Regions from separate parts of the Homo sapiens genome. Here regions 1 and 2 are each linked to region 3. The links come from fine-mapping of genetic effects on gene expression. A gene starts in region 3. Each other region holds a variant in brackets. All regions are shown on one strand. Distances are from middle to middle.

Region 1 (8,181 bases), 55 kb before region 3:
CCCAGTGGAAACCCTCAGGAGATCCAGAATAGCTCTCCGCAGACAGACCTCTGCGCACAGAGGCGGCGAGGAAGGCCCCCGGCAGGGTGCTGGGCACGGCTGGTTCCCGAGATTCAGGGGAAGTCTCCTACAGAGCGCGCTCTGCAAGCCCTAGCTGCGGAGAGGATGAAGGTTTTGCCTGGAATTGGCACTGTCTTTTGATGGCAGATTTTAAACGTGTAAATCATAAATGCTGACCTGATGGCAAATCATTGCTTTTGTTGACAACACCTGCATGTTTAGTCTCTTCTTTCACTATTTTTTTTTTTAATGAATGTGTCCATGTGTTTTTACCCAGTTCTTGCCTCTTGTCCAAGAACCTGGTTCTTGGTTCTTGTCCAACAATGTGGACATTTGTCTTTATAAAATAGAATGATGTTTCTAAACAAACAAAAATTATTCTATGCAATGAATCAGAGCAATCAGCGCAGAACCCTCCTTCCAGCTCGGCTGCAGGCTCCCAAAGGGCAGGGACTGAGTCAGCTTTGTTTCCCCAGGTCCTGGTGGGGTGCTTGGGACACAGAAGGGGCTTGGCAAATGTTTGCTGAGTGTACATCTAGCCTAAAAAGATGGCCTGGAAAGGCGTCTAGGAACACCCTCATTGTACATGAAAAGAATCAGCTCCCAAATCCCTCCACCCTGAAAGGGTTTTGTCTGTTTGCCGGTTTTTGTTTTTTTAAAGGAACAATCTGATTTCTTTTCTTTCTTTCTTTTTTTTTTTTTTTTTTGAGATGGAGTCTTGTTCTGTCATCCAGGAGTGCAGTGGCGCGATCTCAGCTCACTGCAACCTCCGCCTTCCACGTTCAAGTGATTCCCCTGCCTCAGCCTTCCGAGTAGCTGGGACTACAGGCGTGTGCCACCATGCCTGGCTAATTTTTTGTATTTTAGTAGAGACGGGGTTTCACCATGTTGGTCAGGATGGTCTCGATCTCCTGACCTCATGATCTGCCTGCCTTGGCCTCCCAAAGTGCTGGGATGACATGCATGAGACACTGCACCCGGCCACAATCTGATTTTCATACACGGAGGAAGATGGTTAACATGGCTGGGAAATGGGGCATTATGCATAGAAGGTAGGAGGGCTGCAGGCAGAGGCCAGGGCCCAGGGAGTCCAGGATTGGAGCTGGGAAGAGGATCATGAAAGGGAGAGGGTGGGAGGCAGAGGGGGAGCTGGATTTCACTGGGCGCCACATAAAGCAATCCCAGTTTTCCAGATGTACAAATGTCAGATGCATGAGCAGTGCTTTGCAAAATGCAATTTCCCTTTCAAGATGAACACTTTAAGGGCCTTGAAAAGAGACTGGTTTTCTCTTTCAGATGCTGCCTATTGAAATGGATGTGGAAGCAGCTCTCAAGGTCAGGGCTGTGAGCTGGAAGCCTTCTCCACGTTGGTAAGGAGTCTGCATGCCGCCTGGCACCCCACGTAGGCGGGTGGCTGAGCTCATTCCCCAGGTGCAGGCAGGCGAGAAATGGAGCAAGTGATATTGGCCATGGACCCTGACCCTGGGAAGGGTCCTCGAACAGTCTGACCAGCTTCTGACACAGAGGGCATGTGCAATAATACTTAGGAGGGATTTGTCCAGGATGGCTCAGAAATACTCCTGGGTTTACAACTTGGAAATATTTATGAAAAGAACTTAGATTGACCTGTGGCTTTTAGACCTTAAAGGACAGGGTTGAGGACAGCCAGATAGAGCTGTCAGACCGTGCCCCAATGTGGCTGATGACCCGTGACCTACAGGAGAAAGGACGGGTCACACCATCTCAGGTTGGACTCACAGCGGGTCGCCCCGGATAAGCCCCCTGGTGTGCTTTCCCCTGAACTTGGCATGAGATCTGAATTCAGCCCTAGCTCCCAGCCAGGCGTGGGCTGACTCCCTGCTCCCCCTCCCCAAGGCTGCTGCTTCCCTGGGCTTTTTTCAGTTCTTTGGATACAGCTGCGCCTTCCACCCCAGGACCTTCACACACGGCTGATCCCCCAGAGCCCTTGCCGGAGGAGCTCATTCCTGCTCCTGTTTCAAGTCCAGCTTCCAGGCCCCCTACAGCCTCAGTCCCTGTGGCCTCCCCAGGGGCAGCCCTGCTGTTCCTGACCTCAGCCCCCTGTTAGTTTCCCTCATAGCCCTTATTGCGAACTGTAATTCTTTGATTTGTGTATTTTTTCTGTCTGTGTCTCTCCCCGTCCCCACCAGACAGAAAATTTCATGAGGGCAAGAGATCATATTGTCTCTGCTATGGTCTAAATATTTATGTCCCCTTAAAATTCCTTTGTTGAAACCTAACCCCTTAGGTAACGACATTAGGAGGCGGGGCCTTTGGGCAGTGATGAGGTCGTGGGAAGAGGATCCTCGTGATGGATGAGTGCCCTTATGGAAGAGGCTTCAGGGAGCCTGTTGGCCCCTTCCGCCAAGTGAGGACACATGTAAGGCACCATCTGTGAGGAACAGGCCCTCACCAGACACCCAATCTGCTGGCGGCCTGATCTTGATCTTGGACTTCCCAGCCTTCAGAACTGTGAGCAGGAAGTCTCTGTTCTTTATAAATTACCCACTCTAAGGTATTTTTGTAATGCAGCCCCAGTGGACTAAGACAGTCTTATCACTGCTGAGTGTGCAGTGCCTCTTCCTGCTCTGGGCACATAGTAGGTGCTCATTAAATGTTTGCTGAATAATGGATGTGTGGGAAAATTGAAGTAATGAAAAGTCAGAGACCCTTTGGACGTTGTGTGGAGTTGGCTCTGTGTCTTCTGAGATGTCATTTTAATCCTTTATCACAGTGAGATGGTTGTTGGAATGCCCTGCAAAGCTCCACCGATTCCAAAGGGAATGATCAGGATGATCAGCTCCTGGACTAATGTCCAGGTACTGCTGCTGCTGTGGGGTTCTGGGAGACCTAAACAGGAGCAGCTTCCCTGCAAGATTTTATCTAATATTTGAAGACAGGGTGTGTCCATGGGGTGCTTCATCTGAAGAGGAGGAGTGTGAAGCCTCTCCCAGTGCACTTACTGAATGGGAAAGACACCAGGAGATTAAACAGCCACATTCTCATCCATCAGGGCACAGTCTGGGTTCAGTAAATGCTTTTCCCCCTTTCTTAGCTGTTTCCATGAACCAGAACCAGCGGGCTCTCCTCTGTAAGGAGAGAGAAGGTGGGTGCATTCCTGAGTGGTCACGCCTTCCCACTTCCCCAGGTAACTACATGGTGAGGCAAAGAAACAGTTACTCCCTGGACGCTTCAGATCACACAGGGCTGGTTGCAGTCTCTTCCATGAGCATGTTTATCTAACAGGTGATTTGGGGGCTGGGCGTGGTGGCTCACGCCTGTAATCCTAGCACTTTGGGAGGCCAAGGTGGGTGGATCACCTGAGGTCAGGAGCTCAAGACCAGCCTGGCCAACATGAGGAAACCCTACCTCTACTAAAAATACAAAAAATTAGCTGGGCATGGTGGCGGGCACCTATAATCCCAGCTACTCGGGAGGCTGAGGCAGGAGAATCGCTTGAACTTAGGAGGCAGGGGTTGCAGTGAGCCAAGATTGTGCCATTGCACTCCAGCCTGGGCAACAGAGCAAGACTCTGTCTCAAAAAAAATAAATAAATAAATAAAAGAGGTGATTTGGAATGTGGCATCCAGTGGGTGCACACACACGAGTCCTCAGTCAACCTACACGTCACCTCGTCCTCGCTCACTGCTGCAGCCTCA[C/T]CCAGCACAGCCGAGGATCTCTCCACTTACACTTTTGCTTACTTGGTAGAAAAATGAAGCTCAAAGTATATGTTAATGTGCCCAATTCTCAGTAATTTCTCCTCTGGGATGTAGGATTTTTGCCTCCACCAAGTGAGCCAAGGTTATTTGAATAACAACTTCTGAGTCAACATAAATACTCACTTAGAGAAAAAGTCAGCAATGTTTCTGTTTTCAAAACTCCTTCCTAGACATTTATTTACCATAAGAAAGTCAGCACGCTTTATTGCTGGGATCTAACAAGGCCTAAGGAGACATCTGCTCTGCATGCGTTGGCGTTGGTCTTCTTCTGACTGGAACCGGCAGAGCGCATCTTCTGGGCCTGGGTGGGTTTTCTCTTCATTTTTTCTTTGTTTTCTTTTTTTTTGAGACGGAGTCTCGCTCTGTCATCCAGTCTGGAGTGCAGTGACGTGATCTCGGCTCACTGCAAGCTCCGCCTCCTGGGTTCATGCCATTCTCCTGCCTCAGCCTCCTGAGTAGCTGGGACTACAGGCGCCCGCCACCACGCCCCGCTGATTTTTTTTGTATTTTTAGTAGCAGCGGGGTTTCACCGTGTTAGCCAGGATGGTCTCGATCTCCTGACCTTGTGATCCGCCCACCTCGGCCTCCCAAAATGCTGGGATTACGGGCATGAGCCACCGTGCCCGGCCGGCCCTGAGTGGGTTTTCTAAGGGTAACATTCAGATTGTTGCTTTTATTAGATTATATGTCTAGTTCTCCTTCCTCAAATTGCAATCCGAGCTTGACTGACAAATGTGCAAATTCACAGATTCATCGTTTCTCCTGACCTCATGTCTCCATTCTGACACTGAGCAGTAATTGTAGTGCAATCCCCAGGCAAGGGCCATCCCCAGAGCTCCTGGCCTTTGCATGGGTCTTTCCCACCCTGAAGGCAATTCACCCTCAGAGTCATCAGGTAGTTTTGCTCATGGCTGAATTTGAGGCTCAGCACGTGCTTTTGGCCCAAGTCCCACGCACAGATTTGCTGATGCCTGGTTACTGTGGGTGGGCCATGGGGCCAGATGTGGGAAATGCCCCCACACACATCAGAGCTGTTCTGCCTTTCCCAACTGGAAATACTGCTTCTCATTTTGAATCAGAGCCCTGGTGAGCCACTTTATCCTTTCAGTATGGTGTACCTGAGGGATTTTCAGTAAATATTGGCTCTTCGATATTGCCATTGGGTGACCAGAGCAGAAGAGAATCCAATCTTACATCCTCTACTGCTAAGGACATTTTCAACAGAAACTTTGGGACTTCTCTCGAAAGATCCTGAGATCCTTTGCCAACATTAGATATCACAGACTCCTCTGCCCCTTTCCCACTGTTAAGCAAGAACGATCCTTTTGCAAATGTATGCCCTGGCAGCAGAATGCTAGTCCAAGGGCCCCCTGAAGTAGATATTTTTAAAGTTACTCATTACATAGGTAATGTGGGTTCTGAATATTTGACATTAAAGAATGTACAGAAGTTATTTGGGGGTGGCATGAATGACTTAGTGTGAGAACCCATGCTGCCCATAGCTTCCGCAACTGCCGCCTGCTCTGCCTGCCAACACCTGGTTGCAGCTGCCCCTATCCGGCTCTCTCCTCCCCACCTTTGCCCATTCTCCCACCTCGAAACCAGTCTAGATGTTGATACTACATTTTTAGGCTAACAAAACCAAGAAGGACAAGGTTTCTACAACTGGCAATGAGTTTAAACGGGCAACTAGTGGCCGTCCATTTAAAATGAGAAAGAGCTCTGCAAGTTAAAGTCCATTTTATTGTGTGAATTTTTAGCAGTGCAGTGCAGTGGTGTTCTTTTGCATACGAAGATTGATGAATCCTACACAGGGAGAAAAAGATTTGACAGCAGTTTAAGGAGACGTTGTTAGCAAAAACCAAGGCGAGCCGAGTAAGTGGCTTCTCCCCGAAAGCAATTCTTCCCTGTCTAATCTCTTTTTGCAGCTCATTAGTTCTCTGGGAATCAGAAAAAGGTTGTTTCCCAATTATCCCGCCACAGGGGCACATCATGGATGGAAGCCGGGGCTCCGTGGCACAGCATGTGAATCGGCGCGACCCCATCCCAAGAGCCAGGGCTCTCCTTATCTCTGTTGCCTGGGCCCAGCGTGGTGCCGTGGATGTGAGAGTTTAGGCAGGACCACGGCCCCGGCTGTTTGTTTGGGAGGCACTTGGCACCAAGGCCATGCCTCTTATTACTACCCGTGGCCTTGAGCAAGCTCATGAACCTCTCTCAGCCTCAACTGTCACGTTGGTAAGAGCTTCTCGGCAGTGTTTTGAGAATCAAGTGCCTGACCCACGGCAGGCACCTAACACATGCTCCATGGCGCATGGGCAGAGGTGTGTTCAGGGCACAGTCTTAAAAATGACAACGGGCAACTTTTGGTTTTTGGCAACTTCAGTACAAGCAATTTAAGTTTCTCTGGGGCTCACCTCACATGAGGCACAGGATTGATGGGGGCTGGAAGCAAGCCGTGAGATAAGGGGTGTGAAAAAGCGCCCCACTGTTACAGATCACGAGCAGGGACAGTGCTCCCCAGATGGCAGGGGCTCCTCTTCTCCAGCAAGGTAACTGCTCAAGCCAGGACCTCAACCTCAAAGCAGCAGCAGGAGGCGATGGGCAGTGGGTTCTCTGACTACACAGGAGGCCGGTGGGAGGGGAGTCTGAAGGGGAGAGTCAAAGGCAATGCCCATTCTGCCCTGGCCTGGGGACAGGATCCTTCAGGCAGTGGTGACATCTGTCAGGCGTCAGATTGGTGGAGCAAGGAAAATGAGTGGGAACGAGTTCTATTCTGAGTTCCTGGAGGCTTCTCCCTACAGGGGACATTCTCAGAGAGCTTAAATTAAGGCAAGAAACCAGCTCTCCAAACTTTCAGGGTCCGAAAGTGAAATATCACTTTGGGATTTTGGAGATACTCAAGACTGTGGGAATGACCAGCGCATGACCCCATCTTAAACCACGGCTCAGCTCTCTGGGGTCCATCAGATGTGATGGCATGGGCTCAGAGCCATCACAGAACCAAGGGCAGTGGCCTCTGAGTGGTTTGTATGCAGGAGCAGTGTTTTGAAAATGGCTGGGCGTGGTGGCTCATGCCTGTAATCCCAGCTACTCAGGAGGCTGAAGCATGAGAATCGCTTGAACCTGGGAGGTGGCAGAGGTTGCAGTGAGCTGAGGTTGTACCACTGCACTCCAGCCTGGGCGACAGAGCGAGACCCTGTCTCTACATAAATAAATTAATTAAATGTTTTGAAAGTGACCCCTTGAAACTCTGTCCATCATCAGACTCTGCATTTAGTAAGTCCATGTTTATTCAAGAACTTCTAGAAAATGAAGAACTTTTCAAACTTTCATTGCATCAGTTGGTCACCAGGAAGGGGATTTCCTCAGGATGTGAAGGGGGAGTCTTCTTGCTTTTAAACTGGCATGATAGAAGGCAGAGGAGGCACACTGGGGCGGTGTTGCACTAATCCCAGCATGCCCGGGCTCGGGCCAGGCAGGGAGCTTTGGCAGAGGACCCTCTGCACGCTTCCTCTCCTCTAGCCAGAGCTTCTAGACTTGGCTGAGAGATGTGACCTGGTCCTGGCTCACGGAGGGCCCTGGTGGAGTGAGAGAACTGGAGAGTGGCTCCCTTGGTCAGGTGGGGGATGTTTCAGAGTCATAAATGAAGGCAGGTGTGGGGAGGAGCCAGGCCGCTGTCCAGGTGCAAGGCCAGCTTTGCCTTCGCCTTCCCTCCCTCGCTTAGTTGACCCCCATGAGCTCTAACCTGGGGGCACTGACGGTCCTAAGACAGGCTTAGATCTGGCAAGGGGGTGTGGAATGGTTTTGCTGTTAGTAACCCTGGGGTCCAGGGAGTCCCAGGCGAGTGCTGGCCTCAGCCGGAGGGCTCCAGCTGTAGCTCTGCTGAAAGGCATCCAGCCTTAGTGATGGGCTGCCTTTCTGAGACTCCTGGGGGCATGCAGCTCCCCTGCTGGGGCACTGTCTGCTTCTGCTTTCCCTGAGCCGGGTGCCAGCCCATTCCCCATTCCCTCCAAGGCTTGGGACCACAACTGCACACCCTGCCACTGGTGGGAAGACCCTGCCCACCTCTCAAGATCCAGCCCAGGAGCAAAGCTTATGGAGCCCCTCCCTGGGAGTGGGGAGCCCACAGAGGCAGTTCCCGTCCCAGGCTGCCCCACCCCTCTTCCTTTCAGCCCCAGGCCTAGAAAACACTTCTGAGATGAACCGGGCCTAAGCTCTGAAGCCTTCCCTTTGCTCTGCCTCAACTTCCTACCTCTCTGTGGCTCTGCTCCTCTCCCAGGAAGAAGCGCCATATCCAGGGCAGGAAAAGGCTTCCATTCTCAAAGGCCAGTTGAGAGCTGTGAATACTGTGGGTGAGGCCTCCATAATTCTGTGGCCTGGGAAC
Region 2 (8,181 bases), 34 kb before region 3:
ATGACCTAGGTTCCTATTTTGCCTGGAGCTGAGGCACATTTGGAAAAGTTACTTCTCTAAGCTTCCGTTGCTTTATTTGCAAAATGGGGATAACAGTACTCACCAAAAAGAGCTGCTGCGAAGATGAAATGAAAGGTGTGTGTACAGTGCCTGGTTTACAGGAGCCCTCCTGAGAGGTAGCTCTTAGGATTTTCCACCAGGGGGCAGGGCTGGGAAAGGGGCTGGAGGGGTGGGGGTGAGGGGCAGGAGTGCTTCAAACGCCTTGAGGATAAGGAAGGAGAATCAGCAAGTCCCGAGTTCCTACGGTGTGTCAGCATCGTGCTCCCACTCCCGGGAGAGAGGCATTATCTTCAGTTTACAAAAGGGGAAAACAGGTGAGAGTTTAAAAACCTCGCCCGGAATCGCACGGCTAGTGCTGCAGGCTCCCCGGATTCCGCAGCAGCTGCTCTAGATGAGGGCATGCCTAGAGGCTCTGCTCCGCTGCAGCGTCTACGAGACCGGGAACCCGTGCCCCTTTCCTCCCCCCGCCCCGCCCCCCCAGAAGCCACGCCTGAGGAATTTTCTAAGACCTTTCCCTTTCGTCCCTCCCACGCCTAAGGTCCAGGTCCCAGGGCTTTCCCTTGCACCTTCATCCCTGGCCCTGCAGAGGCCTGCTTCTCGCTTCCGGGGTCGCCAGAGCGCCCCTCCCGCCACCCCGCCATCTCTTGGCCGGATCGTGCGAGAGAAGGGGAGGAGGTTGGGACGGGGGAGGGTGGCTGCGACAGGGGAGGGGAGCCTGGGAGAGGTGGGGAGGGAGGCTGGGACGGGGGAGCCCCAGCGCGGCAGGAACCGGGAGCCCTGAGCGCCACAACGTCTAGCGTGGCCTCGGAGGGTGACACAGGGGAGACCCCTCACCCCGCAGGGGACGAAGCCCCCAGTGCGGCTGGATAAGGCGGTGCTCGACGCCTGGGTGTGGCCCCCTGGCCAGCTGCAGCTCTGCGGCTGCGGAGGAGGCGGGGCTGGGGGATGCGGGGTGGGAGGGTGAGAGCCAGGAGGGGCCTGCGGAGGGGAGACAGAGGCCCTGTCCCCAGGGAACGGGCGTGGGGAGGCCGTTGGCAGTGCCGGGGACTCCCCGCCAGCGGGTCTCTCTTCCTGGAGGAAGGGCGGGCCAGCGGCCCCAGCCACCCAGAGACTGTGCCCAAGCCACACCGGTGGACAGGATCCTCCCAGGGGCCAGTCCTGGTTTCCCAGCTTTTCACAATTACCAACCTTAAAACAAAACAAAATTATCCTCTAGTGTACTCGGAGGTTTAATGGCACAGAGCCCGGTGGTAATAAATCTTTAAAAACCCGTCAGGTATTTCATTTAAAAACCGCACCATTTTGCAGCTATTTGTTCTATCAACTTAGGTCTGTGTCTATTTTTGAATTTCTGAACGTTTTACGGGTTTGCTTTTTGAGCCTGTTTGTTTCATAGCACATGATGGAGTAGGTGTGAAATCCCAGTGGAAGCTGACACAGGGCTTCACTCACTCAGTCAATTAGTCAGCGAACCCCCACTCAACACCCACTGGGTGTTTGAATTATGTTGAGCTCTGGGGATAGAAGGAGGTCGACTCACACTTCACTGGCATTCGTTCCTGTGCTTTCCCTTCCTGGGGATCTGGCTAAAATGCGGGTTCTGATTCTGTAGGTCTGGGGTTTCCAGAGTCCGCGGTTTTGCTAAGAAGCCGCAGTGATGTTGACGCGGCTGGTCCTCAGTGCACACCTGAGTAGCACGACCTCTCCGCCCTGGACGCACGCTGCCATCAGCTGGGAGCTGGACAACGTGCTGATGCCTAGTCCCAGAATCTGGCCCCAGGTGACTCCAACAGGTAATGAGATTGACGACCCTTGATGCGTTCTCTGTCCGCAAGGAGTTCCTGGTCTGGTGGGGAGTACACAGGCAAAAAAAATCAGTGCAGTAGAGAGTGAGAGAGAGGCCAGGGTGCAGTCCTGAATTTGGCTTGTCTGGGGTGGGCGAGGAAGAGTCAGGAAGGCCCTGGTGAGGAAGGCGTCCAGTGAGCAGGGTGAGGTGGCAGAGCCTTGTGGGCCTGAGAACAGGGGAGCAAACAGTAATAATAGCTCCAGCATGGAATCCCTGTTCTGTGCCATCTTTGTGCTGAGTGTTTTTCATGCATTGTATCATTTAATCCTGAAACAGATCTATTAAGTCCGTTTTAGTCGCCTCATTTTACAGGTCACAAAAGCAGAGTGATGTGGTAGCTTGCTTCAGGCCACACAGTTACTAAGCAGCGGGCTAGGTTTTGTCTGATTCCAAAGGCTCTAAGTGCAGCCACCGCTGCCTGGGAGGTTGGTTCCTCCTGAGCCCTCTGGGTGTGATGGGGTTGTTCTGAGTCCCGGGGGGAGCACCAGGGAAGGAACTCATGATTTCCTGCCATGTGGTCCGCTGTGCACAAGCTGCCCGGCAGCTCGGGTCACTTCCCGCCAGCCAGGGCTGTGTTCTCCCTCTCCCTCCTGCTCCCCTCCAGCATGCTCCCTACTCATCTAACAGCTGCTCCTCGGTGTTTCTAAGCACAATACTTGCCCCCAGAGGTCCCTGATTGCTCCCAGGAAATAAGATGTCCATGCATCCCAGGTAACACCTGTCATTCTGGCATCATCACCAAGAGTGCCCCGTCACTCTCTGAAGGTCTGCTTGGACAACGGCCCCCGCAGTAGAAACAAGACCACTAACTAGCAGCCACTGATTTCATTCTTAACACCCCTTCACTGGATTCTCCTTCATCTAAGGCAGGTCTGCCTCTGTCAGGAGTGAGGGTAACACCTCCTCACTCTGGAATTTCTCAGCTGGGCAGGATGTGCATGCCATAGTAACCAGAACCTGTGAGTCTGTGCTGAGCTCTGCCGTCTACACCCACGGCTGTGGCTGTGTGAGGTGAGTGCAGCTGCCGGATCGCGTTCTTCCAACACAGACACACTCTACATCCTTCTTGGTCACGTGCAATTAGTAGGCTTTCTCCTATTTTTATTTAAATGGGATGTCTTAGAGCTTCATTTTCATATTTTGATGTAGAGAAACATTTAAAATGTTGCATTCTCTTTATTTTAGGAAAAGCACATATACAAACCCATGATAAATGCAACCAAAACTTGCCCTGGGTTTGGGGGACATGGTAGGGGGTGGTGGGGACTGTGGTGAGCTGTACACACACGCAGTTCTAAAGCGGCAGCTGCTACTCGG[C/G]TCTAGTTCATTATTGCCTTGCCATGCCGTGGAGCCAGTACTGCAAGATCCTCCCTTTGCTTTTTCCAGAAAAGCCAGAAATTAAACTTTTGAAGATGAAATTTTTTTTCCATGTTGACCACTAATTCAACAATTTTTGAAAAAGTGAGCAAGCCATAGAGAATCTATGTGTGAGTCAGATTCAGTCTGTCAGCTGCCGGTTCGTATTTCTGGGCTAGGGAGTCGGAGAGAGGCCTTTTCTGCCCATGGACATGTTGGGCTGCGTTGTGAGTTAGGCTGAGAGTGCTGTTAAGAGTTGTGGTAGTGCCACTGAATTCCTCTCACAGCCTCCCTGTTTGCACCAACAGGTCTGCCACAAACATTACCTGTCAGTCCTCAGGACAACAAAGGCAGGCGGCCCGGCAGGAAGAGGAGAACTCAATCTGCAAGGCCCATGATAGTAGAGAGGGCCGCCTGGGCTACCCCCTCAGTGCCCATCAGCCTGGTTCCGGTGGTCCTAACTAGCCCTGTCTCCTTGCCAATAGCCCTGTGCTCCCCAGCCCCCTCCCCCATGCAGACGGCTGCTATGACATCCCTGTTCCTTAAAGTGCGGGGTTCCTCGCTGCCTTCTCCTCCCTAACTGGCACCCTGTGCAAACCTGCTGCAGAGAACAGTGTCTTGGGCAGTGCGATAGTCCTCCAGTTCACCAACAGTAAAAATGGTCTCAATGGGGAGAGATGTCTGACTGCAAGCGCTGAGTCCTTCCAGAGGAGGGCTGGAGGGACAGGAGGGCGGATCAGGTGGCCTCCTGAGCTGGTTCCTGGCGCCGATGTAATGGATGCTGATTACCAGCGGTGAGGGCATCGTGGAAGGGACTGCAGAGGTGTGCGAGATGAGTGGAATGAGGCCCCAGGTGCTGATTTTTATGCCCAGGATGCTCCTGGCTGTCATGGGCTCCCAGGGGCTCCAGGCATGCACAGCTCTTCCGCCTCTTCTCGAAGCAGAATGCCCCAGAAAGGGCACCTTTACTATCCAGGGTGGCTAGAGTCGCCGGTGGCTGTGCGTGGGGGCTGAGGGCTAGAATCAGGGCAAGGGGCTTTCAGTGAAACGCAGAGCCAGGCAGGGACAGCGCGGATCTCAGAACAGTCTTTGTCAGATGGGACACTTCATCCCCGCGGAGCTGTCCGTGCACACAGCGTTCTCTGATTGCCAAGCTGTTAAGCACTCTGCGGAAGGGAGCTGCTGGGAAGGCGGACGAGGCATCTCAGGTGGGTGAGGGGCTCCGCTGCATCAGCGTTGCTCAGACCCACCATCCCTGGGGAGCTGTCACTGACGCCCAGGTTTCCCCTTCTCAGTACATCCTGTGCCTCCTTTCTGGGCTGCCTCAGTCCCTCAAAGGGGAGCTCCCCACATGGGTGGGATTATTGTTGAGAACAGTCAGGGTGTTGACGAGGATGCAGGACTGAGGTTGCTCCCAGAGTCACTCAGTGTCCCTCGTTTTGCTCGGAGACATCCTGACCTGGGCAAGCTCTTTAGGGAGCATCTTTCCTGTCTGTGCCGCATTCTCCATGGCCTTTGCACTCTTTTTGCTTTTGTTTTAAACACGTCATCAATTCATTGCCTGCAGCAGCTTGTACTGCCTTTTGGTTTTTCTTTGCAGAACAGCTCTGGAAGTGAAGTGTGTGTGTGTGTGTTTGCGTGCACTACTCTGGACTGGGTGCCTTACACGTGTTAACACACTTGATCAGCTCAGCAACACTGTGGAATAAGTGTAATGTGTCCATTATTCAGATCAGGAGACTGAGATTCAGAGCAGGGAGGGAACTTGCCAGAGACCACATGGCTTGCAAGCAGCAGAACCTGGGTTTGAACTGACAGCGGCCTGACTTCAGAACCCACGCTTTCCCACCCTCCTACTTCACACCCATTTGAGTCCAGCCATCTTGGTTCTGAATCATAACCCTGACTCTCCTGGCCACATCCTATGCTCCACATTACATGTTACTCTACAGGTTACCACCCTGGGTCTCTTTCCTATATAAGAAATAGAAATATTTGTGGAAATCCTAATGTTCATGACATCTCTGCCATTTTATCAGGAAAAATTCTATCCTACCAAATACTGGTATAATGTACTTGGCCCCCCTGGATTGGATTGGTATAGGTTAAGAGCAGATATAAGGTCTGAAATAATCCCGGTATTCCTAGTATGTGGAATTATTATCATGGAATCATAATGGCAGTTTGCACCTCTGTTGGGCTCTTTCAACTCCTGTGTTGGCTCAGGAGAATCCTATCACATTAGTCCCCTTTTGTAGTTGGATAGTTGGGCTTGCCAGAAGGCACACAAATTTGGGTTAACTCATTTCCAGGATTCTGGCATTGTAGACACAGAAACACCGACTGTGAAGTTTTATGTAATACAAACACTGGGAGATTTAGCAATAGGCCTGCCAGGCGGCCCTGGCTTCTGGCTGCACAACAAAGGGGGGTGGCTGGTGCTGAATGGGGCAACAGAAGGTGAGTTTGGGGCCTGCAGAGCCTCGGGTAGCCCAGAGGAGCGAGAGAGTATTGGCTGTTCATTTTAACTCCATCCTTGGAGGATTCCCCACCACAAGCCTAAGGAAGTAATAAAACCTCATGCATTATTTTTTGATATCTGGAGAGAAACACGTACCCTAGAAATGCTGTGGACTAATTCCATGGTTACTTTGTCATTAAAGAAACCAAAATACTGAGAGGTCACCATAAACACAAAAAGGCAGAGAGAGAAGGATTAAATGGTGTTTCATGTAAGGATCTTTAAAGGGAGACAGAATTCTAGTCTGAAAGGAGCGCAGGCAGATCTGGCATTTTGCTTGGGGAGTTCAATTCTTTGGAGAAAATACAGAGACAAAAAGACCATTTTGATGGTATTTAAAATATCCCTCTGCCCAGTGTATCTAAGTGAGTCTAAATATATTCAGCAATTTTTTAAAGGGCAGATATTAGGCCCGATTCAAGGTATGGAATATAGATTCGAAAGGGTTAGTGATAGGTGAGTGCCTTTCAGGTAGCTTTGCATCACAGACCAAGCCCATTATTGAGGACTGTACGTATGGAGCAGGCCCGTGAGCTTGTGACTGAGTTTCCCAACCTGCCAGGCTCCCATTTGCTTAGGATGAATATTTTTCTGCCCTCCCTGGTGAGCCACTGTGGGCCACTCGCCACTCCTTACACCCCTTCCCTTTAATACCTCGCTTGGCTTACTTGCAAAATCCACATGCATCCTCCTGGATCTCACAGAAGATGTATGAAAAGTCATGGCCATGAAAAGGGCACGGAAATCAAATTAATTAATTTTGCTTTTTCCCCACGTTTGTTTCTGTCTGTCTGGTACTTTTCCTTTTTAAGCCTGCCATCTCTTTGAAAGTGAGCCGCACAGTGATAATCCATTTTCTTCATTGTAACCCCACAGTGTATGTATTCCACATTAAATAATAAAAGGGATTAATAATTAAATCAAAATGAAAAACCACTTGTTTCCTGTCTATAACCCAAGGGACAGATTTCCTGGGCTGGTGCCAATTTATCAGTGATGATTAGGGAAGATGAGGTAGAAGTGCACAGAGACAACAGCCTGAAAGCAAGATAATGTGAGTTTGAATATATTCATATACAAGTGAAAAGGATGAGATGGTGAGGGATGGTAAATGTGAGAAAGAGCCACAGAAACTGGACATAACAGGTAAAATCCCAGTAATTATCGTCACCTACTGGGGCTGTACCATATACCCAATTTTATTCCAAATGCTTTACATGTATAAACTCATTTAATCATTTCAGAAAAGGTACCAGGTAGATACTGTTCTCCCCATTTTATAGATGAGAAAACTGAGGTGCAGGAGGGTGAGTCAACTGCCCCAAATCTAGTAAGTGGTTGATCTGGAGTTGAACCCAGGCTGAGTGGCCCTTGACTCACACTCAGTGTCTGAGCAACTCCACAAAAATGGAATGCTTAAATGATTCAAGAAAGAGGAGATAGACAAATATCATGGGGTAAGAAATGAAACAGAAAAATCCATTGAGAATAAGAGAAAAACAAAGTGAAAGAAATAGGAAAGGCCAGGCACGGCGGCTCACGCCTGTAATCCCAGAACTGTGGGAGGCCAAGGCAGGCGGATTACCTGGGGTCAGGAGTTCGAGAACAGCGTAGCGAACATGGTGAAACTCCATCTCTACTAAAAATACAAAAAAAATGAGCTGGGCGTGGTGGTGAGTTCCTGTAGTCCCAGCTATTCGGGAGGCTAAGGTATGAGAATCGCAGACAGCAGAGGTTGGCAGTGAGCCGAGATTGCGCCACTGAACTCCAGCCTGGGTGACAGAGTGAGACTCTGTCTAAAAAAAAGAAAGAAAGAAAGAAATAGAAAAATCAGAGTAAGGAGTTGAGAATGAAAGAAGGATTTAAAAAAGCAAAGGACAAAAAGGAAAGACAAAGTGAAGTGTAAGTGGATGTGGGCATTAGAACGAAAGCTGAGGAGGAGGAAACAAAGAACAGATGAGAGACCCAGCTGAAGGGAACTGCATCTTGGCGCTTGCCATGGGGCACTGCTCATGCGCTAACTTATTTGACTTTCCCATGGCATTTCAAGGTAGGTGTTATTAGACACATTTTACAGAAAGAGAACTGAAGGTCTGAAAGACTAATGTCCAAGGCGACACAATTAGTTCATGGCAGAGCAAAAAGAACTGCTGACAATTACAAAATGCCAAAGAAAGAAACTGAAGAATAGCAAATAAATGGAGAAACATACTGTATTCATGGATTGGAAGACTCAATATAGTAAAAACGTTGATTCTCTCTGAATTCATATACAGATTCAATGCAATTTCTATCAAAATCTCACAAGATTTTTTATAGATATAGATAAAATTATTCTAAAACTTATGTGAAAAGGGAAAGCAACTAGAATAGATAAAACAATTTTGGAAAAGAATAA
Region 3 (8,181 bases):
TAAATCAGACAAGCACCTGGAAAGGCTTTTTGTTTATCTGAATGACTCCTGTTGGAATATTAGTCATGAATAGGATAATATGTTTCAAATGTTCCAAACTTCTTTAAGAGAAAGAGAAAACCGTCTGTTGACTCTGGTCTTCACTCAGGTCCAGCGGCGGGATGCTCCAGGTCCAGTCTGAGGAGTAAATGCTGGGCGTGTAACCTCATCAGTGTTGGGAACCTGGTGAGGCTACACAGCACAGAGGGGCCGGACTGCATCAGGGAAAGAGGAGTTGGGCTGTCTTCTCATTGTCACACACAATCCCACCATGGAGGACTCAGGCTGTCTCATGGCTACAGAGGTAGTGAAGCAGTTGCCAGGCGCCACAGCAGGAACGGAATTTCTCCGTGAAGACAGTGGTAAGGCGGAAGGACTGAGAGTGCATCCCGCTGGGGTACTGGAAGGTGTAGGATTCCATCAGGGCAAACGCTATCATTTGTGCTTTAAGACTAGGATTTGTGGAACAGGGAGAATGCATCCCCTGCCCTCCCTGTTGCTTAGCAACAGTCCTCTTTCTCATTCCCAGCAGGTCCAAAAGGGCCCAGTTTTGAAGATTGGGGGCAAGGAGTGGGGGATGAAGGTAAGATAACTCCCTGGTCTGCATAATAATGAGACATTCTGGCTCCATTGTGCAAAAGGTACCTGCCTTGCAAATGAATGAAGTAGTTAAAAAACACTTCTCCCTGTTTGGGGTTTATTCTGTGAGGATGAATGCTTACCTGGGGGAGACACATGTTTCTCTGTATGTGTTTGTATTTCCACAGCTGTCTGCTGGATCACAAGAGTCAAAGACACGCCTTCAGCCCACACAGGTGGGGAGGCTCAGAATGCCTGCCCCCTAGGGCCTCCACGCTGGACATTGGGTCAGGGAAGCCCCCTTTCCTGAGTTGTTCTGTGGGACTCCAAAGGGCCTCCTGCCAAGCTCTCTGACAGTTCACATCCCATCTGAAGAGCCTCATGCACCAGTCCAGGGCCTCTGAGAAGCAGATGCCAAGAGGGGATTAAAAATGCCAAGATTTTGTTGGAGGAGATGCCCAGGTGAGGAAAGTCAGAGGGAGGCTGTCTGAGGAGTTTTCAGACCAGGACTCAGGGCAGACCCTGAGGGGAGGAGGGAGAGCAGGTTGGGAGGATGCATCCTAGACTGCCATGGAGTCTAAGGAAGATTCCACGGCCGTGCAAGAGTGCTCCAGCCAAAGGCACCCTTGGAGGAGCCCACCTCTCCCGGGGACTGCCTCCCTTCATGTCCTCCTGTGCTCAGTCCCTTCAGAGTGCAGCCCCTTTGGCCTTGGACACTTCCTCTCCCTGCGTTTCGTTGGGCTGCAGGGCGTGTTCTCCTGGCCTCCACACCCAGGCCTGCTCAGGGGTAGGGTTGGGTGAACCTGAGGCTTGGGAATATCCCACTGGGGGGATTGGGAGGCCTGCAAAGGTAGGTAGAGGGCCACGCAGTGAGGGGTGCAGAAGGGAGGGCCTGTGGACAGAGGGGGTGAACCCAAGGACGGCAAGCAGCAGCAGGGACAGGCGTGACCACAGGAGGCCACCTGTGAAGGGAGAAGGCCAGATTTAGCAGGAGCGTGGACTCCCCGCCTGTTGCTCTTTCCCCCACCATGTTGTAGCTCCTTAGTGTGGGTCTCCTCCCACCTCACTTCGCATGGGAACCCTTCTGCAAGTGGCTTCACTTACACCTGTGTCTTGTTCTGTCTGGGCTGCTGTAACAAAATATCTGAGGCTGGGTAATTTATAAACCACAGAGAGTTATGGAGGCTGGAAGTCCAAGACCAAGGCACAGGCAGGTTTGATGTCTGCTGAGGCCTTGACCACTGCATCACATGGTGGAAGGCAGACGGGCAGAAAGAGGACAAACACTGTGTCCTCACAGCAGAAGAGAATGAACCTCCTCCCTCGAGCCCTTTGATAAGGGCCCTAACCCCATCTGGAAGGGCTCTACCTGATGACTTAATCACCTCCTAAAGGCCCTGCCTCTTAAAACTATCTCATGGGGATTATGTTTCAATATATAAATTTTGTGAGACACATTCAGACCATAGCAACCTACTATGTTCTTTTTCCTTATCTGTAATGACTGGTTATGCTTATAAATGTTTGAAAGCAAAAGTGCCTTTTCCGTGAAATTTTGCATCTGTTTCCATTTTATCCCTTCTCTGAGCATCATGGAGACTCAGCTGTCCTGCCCCGGGGACTGGTGTCAGGAACCTGGTGTATGGTCTCCAAGCTACGCTGCTGCTCTGATGCTTCTCATCTCTTTGACTCTTGAGCTGAGGTTGATCCCTCCTACAATCTTGTGTGGTGTTGAGTGGAGGAGGGGACAGGCAGTGAAGGGGCATGTGGCCAGCCCACAGTCACCCACTCTTGCTTCTTGCGAACCCAATCAATGCTTCAAGTGATTACCAGCTGTGAAGTGTGAGGAACAGTGGGAAGAGAGCAACTCAGGAGGGGTGTGGGGTAAGGACTCCTCTCCCTCAGTCTCCTAGTGGGAGATGGCCCTAGGGGGTGGGCTGAGGAGGAAGACAGAAGGCTGACACTCGGAGTAGGTTGGATTTCAACCCTGTTCATTCAATGACAAGTGTATTACATATGCTATCTCTTGAGCTTCCCACTGTAGACTTCTGAGGTGAGAAGCTAGGTAACTTGCAGTTGGTAGAGCAGGGTCTCAACCCCACCACTGAAGTGCAAAGTCTGTGATGTAAAGTTCTGCATTGCCCCGGGACCAGGGTGGCTGGTGAATGGCCAAGAGAAAGTCAGGTCAGCCTGACCTTCTAGGGCAGGAGTCCCCACACCTGGTCTGTGGCCTGCTAGGAACCAGGCTGCACAGAAGGAGGTGAGTGGTAGGTGAGCAAAGCTTCATTTGTATTTTGACCACTCCCTATGGCTCACATTACTGCCTGAGCTCCGCTTCCTGTCAGATCAGCAGCGGCATTACATTCTCACAGGATCCTGAACCCTTTTGTGAACTGCGCATTCGAGGGATCTAGGCTGTGCGCTCCTTATGAGAATCTAACGCCTGATGATCTGTCACTGTCTCCCATCACCCCCAGATGGGACTGTCTAGTTGCAAGAAAACAAGCTCAGGGCTCCCACTGATTCGACATTATGGTGGTGTTGTATAATTATTTCATTATATATTAGAATATAATACATAATATATATTATATGATATATTAGAATATAATACGTAATATATGTTATATAATATTTAGAATATAATATGTAATATATGTTATATAATATTTAGAATATAATACGTAATATATGTTATATAATATATTAGAATATAATACGTAATATATGTTATATAATATATTAGAATATAATACGTAATATATGTTATATAATATATTAGAATATAATACGTAATATATGTTATATAATATATTAGAATATAATACGTAATATATATTATATAACATATTAGAATATAATACGTAATATATGTTATATAATATATTAGAATATAATACATAATATATATTATATTATATATTAGAATATAATACAGAATATATATTATATATTAGAATATAATACATAATATATATTATATATTAGAATATAATACAGAATATATATTATATATTAGAATATAATACAGAATATATGTTATATAATATATTAGAATATAATACAGAATATATGTTATATAATATATTAGAATATAATACAGAATATATGTTATAGAGTATATTAGAATATAATACATAATATATGTTATATAATATATTAGAATATAATACATAATATATATTATATTATATATTAGAATATAATACATAATGAAATAAGGAATATAATAGAATATTATTTCATAGAATAGAATAGAATATTATTTCCTTCTATAATAGAATAGAATATTTCATTATTTCATCCCATATTCATTATTTCATTCTATAATATTATAGAATAGAATAGAATATTATATAATGTAATAGAATATTATTTCATTATATATTAGAATATAATATATAATGAAATAAGGAATATAATAGAATATAATAGAAGTAAAGTAATTATTATAAGTAAACACAGTAGAAACAAAGTTCACAATAAATGTCATGTGTTTGAATCATCTCGAAACCATCCTCCCCCACCACCTCCCTGGTCCATGGAAAAAATGTCTCCCATGAAACTGGTCCCTGGTGCCAAAAAGGTTGGGGACTGCTGTTCTAGGGCCACTGAGTGATTCACAGGACAGGAGACATTTGTGAGGGGCTCCTTGGGGACCCCTACTTCCCTGCCCTGTAACATCCAGCCTCATGTGCGCACGTGTTCAACTTCATGCCTTTGACTTAGACACATCGACATGAGCATACCGGCCTTCTGGTTCCAAGCCAGGGTTCCATAAACAAATCCTTCTTAGTTAGCCTTGGTAGCTCAACACCTTTGGTATCTCACTCACTTAACTGCCACGCCTACTCTTGTTGGATCCGGTTATAAAGTAAACTATGTTCTTTGAGAACTGTTGCATACAGATGAGTTGGCAGCCGGTCTGAGCTGGCCCACAGACTCATAAAATCAACAGGGCCTCGGGTACCCTCACCTAGCATATCCAAACTCTTGCATCAAAGGTGCAGGGACTTGCTCACATCGAGAATCTGGTTGCTTTCTTGGAGACCAAGAAAATGAGTTTTTGTTTCTACATTTACTCCAGCAATCCATGAGGTAAGAGGAGAAACACCTCATTGTCTCTTTGTAGGAAAAAGAAGTTAATTCTTGTGAAAATTTAGACCTCTTTTCCCCGCCTCAAATCTAGGCAGACTTGTCTGTCCACTCCTGGGGGATAGATAGAAGCATGGTTTTAACTCACTCACTGGATGCTTTTGGTGTGCTGGTTACATGTGGATTATTAGCTGTGTGCTGCATCTTGCCTTCCCTGGGTCACTCCGCAGCCCTGGGGCTGGAGGGCAGTAAGAATCTTTGGTTGCATCATGCCTGATTCCAAAGTCTTCTTTTGGTGGCAGAGATGTATGTAGGGTTTTCATCTCTGGTGGCATCCTTTCAATTGTAGCAAGACCTTGCCTAGTAACACAACCTCTGCCAAGCCGTTTCCATCTTTAAGGTAGAGGATCAAGGTGCTAGTGGGGTCTATTATGGAAAACATATATCAGGAAAAGGCAAGAGTTAGCCAGACATTTTGATTACCTTCACCCAAATGTCTTTCTTTCATTTTCTGATGTAGGACTTTATAGGAATTTTGCACCATTCTGAATGGATACATTTGGATTTCTCAACATTTGTTCAGCTTCCTAATGACTGTTGTGACAATTGCTCTATACCAGTGAATGCCAACTGTTTATCTCTGCTCTGAACAGGTATGGAGCCCCTTCTCCCAATATCTGTATCTTACAGATTTGGTGCATAGACGCTTAAAAGGAGTTGGTCTTTCGCAACCAGCAATCTTTAGGAAAAATGATTGAATTTTTCTCCTTTTAGCTGGGCTTACAAAATGGAGCAAAACATAGTGATTGTGCTATGGACCTTTTATGGACAGGGACTTGGCAGAGCCACTCACTGGATGCTTTTGATCTGCTGGTTGTACCTGGATTATTAGTTGCGAGCTGCACGCTGCCTTCCCTGGGCCATTCCGTAGCCCTGGGGCTGGAGGGCAGTTAGAATCTTTGGTTGAATCTTCGGTTACATTGGAGGAGCTGCCCAGTCTTTGTGGGCTCCCTTCAGTCATGGGCTTGGCTTGTGTTGTCTTACTCTACACTGTTTAGTGTAAATGGATTCTCACTAAGTCAGCTTCAGCTTTTAAGAGCATGATGGGGTGGAGATATCTGGGAACGTATGGGCCATCAGAAAAGCATTTTTTTATACTCAAGTCATGAAGGTGGATTTCTTCTGTGTAAGGAGGTGCACCAAGTCAGTGTAGGTGCAAGACTGCCCTTGTAAAGAAGCAGAGTATGTGAATTCCTTGTGAGTGGGTCTTAATCTTTAATGCTTTAATGACTTTTGGTTTGCCTGATTTTTTTTAATATAAGAAGTTTGTAATTGCCAAGCATGCTTTTCTGTGAAGAGCTAAGTCTCAAAATTCCCCATTCACGTTCTTTTCCTTTCCTCAGTAATGTGTTTTTCTGTGCTAGGTTATGAGTCTACCCTGCACCTTGTCACAGCTCAGTGATTGTCCAGGGATTCAGCTGTGACTCACATGCTTTGCCTTTTACTTGCTCCAGGGTTTCCATGCATTGAAGGCTTCCTGGTGCCCTCTCAGTGGAATTGCTTCTGGCCTGGCAGTTTGATCCTGAGGGTGACCCAAATGTTTCTCCCCTTGGCTCCATAATTTAAGATGCCAGTGATGACTATTGTCTTTCTTCTCTTCATTCTTGTCTTTCTCATGACTATTATTATTATACATACAGGTTTTTTTCTTCATTTGCCTTTCAACAAGCTTGTAATTAGAACTCATTGTGTTTTGGATGCTAGGTCCTGGGAAACCACTGAATGGCTTGGGAAATGCTTTGCTCTAGAGGGCAGGTACTTGGGCTAGGGGCTATGTGCATGGAAACAGGCTCTCACACGCTAATGGGAGAGATACCTGATGAGTGGGGACTGTGACACAGAAATGTAGCTCATAGTATCATCGCTGCCTGCACAGAAAAGTACATCATACTTTTCCTACAGAGGACCTCATGGAAGCATGATCCTAAATGCGCTGGGTGGGCAGGAAGGGGCCTACTGGAGGCAGGGGGAAGAACATTCTAGAACAAGGAAATGGCATTTACAAAAATATGCAAGAATGAGAGAGAGCATGACTTACACAGGGAATACCAGGCTGGTGTGGCTGAGGGTGGGTGGCCAGGGGAGGGGTGAGGGAAGCTGCAGGGTGCCACGATGAAGGACCTAGTATGTGATGCTGAGGAACTTGGGCAGTGTCCGGAAGGTGGTGAGAACCGGGGTAAGATCTTATTTACATTGTGGAAGAGTTGCTCTGCCTGCACAGTGCAAGGTGGACTAGAGTAGGGTAAGACCACGGCCGGGTAATCAGGGAGGAGATTACCAAGAGGGAGAAGACACAAAGTCTGGTGGCCAATCAGCTGCAGAGAGTGATGGGGACAGGCGAGGATGAAGTGGAGCTCTGAAACAGGAGCCAGAGACTCCCAAAGTCCGCAAAAAGAGCACACTTTGAATGGCACAGACCCTTTTCCTTCCACTCACCCTCCCACATTCAAGACTGTGATGACCTAGGCTCAAGCCAAAAGTATACAGAAAAGGGCCTAGGCTTTCCCAATCTGCTCTTTCTCCTGAAATATATATGGTTCAGGAATAGTATTAGTACTGCTGTGAAATAGCAAAAAGTGGTTGGCTCGATTATGTGGTTCAGAAATCATCATGAACAAGCAGGGTGTGCAGAAATTGGAAAAAGAAAACAACAAAAACAAACATCTTCAAAAAATGCTGAAGAAAAAAATTAGTGTAGAGACATATAAAAGATAGACCCCTAGAAAAGTCAACAATAGGCCTGGTGCAGTGGCTTACACCTGTAATCCCAGCACTTTTGGTGGCTGAGGCTCATCTGAGGTCAAGATTTCAAGACCAGCCTGGCCAACATGGAAAAACCTCATCTGTCTAAAAATTTGAAAATTAGCCAGGCATGGTGGCACACACCTGTAGTCCCAGCTTCTCAGGGGGCTGAGGCATGAGAATTGCTTGAACCCGGGAGGCGGAGGTTGCAGTGAGCTGAGATCGTGCCACTGCACTCCTCAAGCCTGGGTGATAGGGTGAGACTTTGTCTCAAAAAAAAAAAAAAAAAAAAAAAAAAAGAGAGAAAAAGAAAAAAGAAAAAGAAAAGTCAGTAATAAACCTTAAGGTCAAACCTTAAGTTACCTTAAGGTCAAAGGTTGTTCCTTCCTCCACGCAGGACGATTCTAAGCCATCCTTGCAGAAGATTGTGAAGGATGTGCAAAGTGTCAGCCTTTCTTGCCATTGCCTCGTCAGAATCTGTGAGCAAACGGAAAAAAGAACGATGCTCTTACACATGAAACTCCTGGATTCTTTTTAGAAAAATAGCAGAAAGAAACCAAAAATAGTGCAGAGAACAGGTCGCTTCAAAACTATTGAGGATCCAAAGATGTTCTGCCCTAAGGAGTTGCTTCTCAAAAACTGTTATTAAGGTCCTTAGCTGTCAAA

Evidence for each region. PIP is the estimated chance that this variant, and not a neighbour inherited with it, causes the effect.
Region 1: its variant is fine-mapped to the expression of KCNJ1 in sun-exposed skin (GTEx, PIP 0.98).
Region 2: its variant is fine-mapped to the expression of KCNJ1 in unexposed skin (GTEx, PIP above 0.99). The same link has a PIP of 0.9 or more in lung.

What each region holds. Positions count from the first base shown.
Region 1 is chr11:128,918,503-128,926,683 of GRCh38, reverse strand. KCNJ5 (potassium inwardly rectifying channel subfamily J member 5) reads right to left here. Exons shown (of 3, transcript NM_000890.5): 3 at 5,521-8,181. Among named protein-coding and RNA genes, the nearest start is that of KCNJ5-AS1, 16 kb to the right of the region's middle. RefSeq lists an enhancer at 1-296. The variant C/T (reference allele first, on the strand shown) is at 3,738.
Region 2 is chr11:128,898,103-128,906,283 of GRCh38, reverse strand. The region is part of intron 1 of KCNJ5 (potassium inwardly rectifying channel subfamily J member 5); the gene reads right to left. It overlaps KCNJ5-AS1 (KCNJ5 antisense RNA 1), which reads left to right and starts at 53. Exons shown (of 4, transcript NR_045767.1): 1 at 53-135; 2 at 1,673-1,853; 3 at 2,773-2,917; 4 at 3,571-6,719. RefSeq lists a silencer at 1,119-1,188 and an enhancer at 3,896-4,654. The variant C/G (reference allele first, on the strand shown) is at 3,224.
Region 3 is chr11:128,863,708-128,871,888 of GRCh38, reverse strand. It overlaps KCNJ1 (potassium inwardly rectifying channel subfamily J member 1), which reads left to right and starts at 4,593. Exons shown (of 3, transcript NM_153766.3): 1 at 4,593-4,716. LOC107984409 (a long non-coding RNA gene) reads right to left here. Exons shown (of 3, transcript XR_001748442.2): 2 at 7,879-7,992; 3 at 4,710-5,139. RefSeq lists an enhancer at 292-1,054.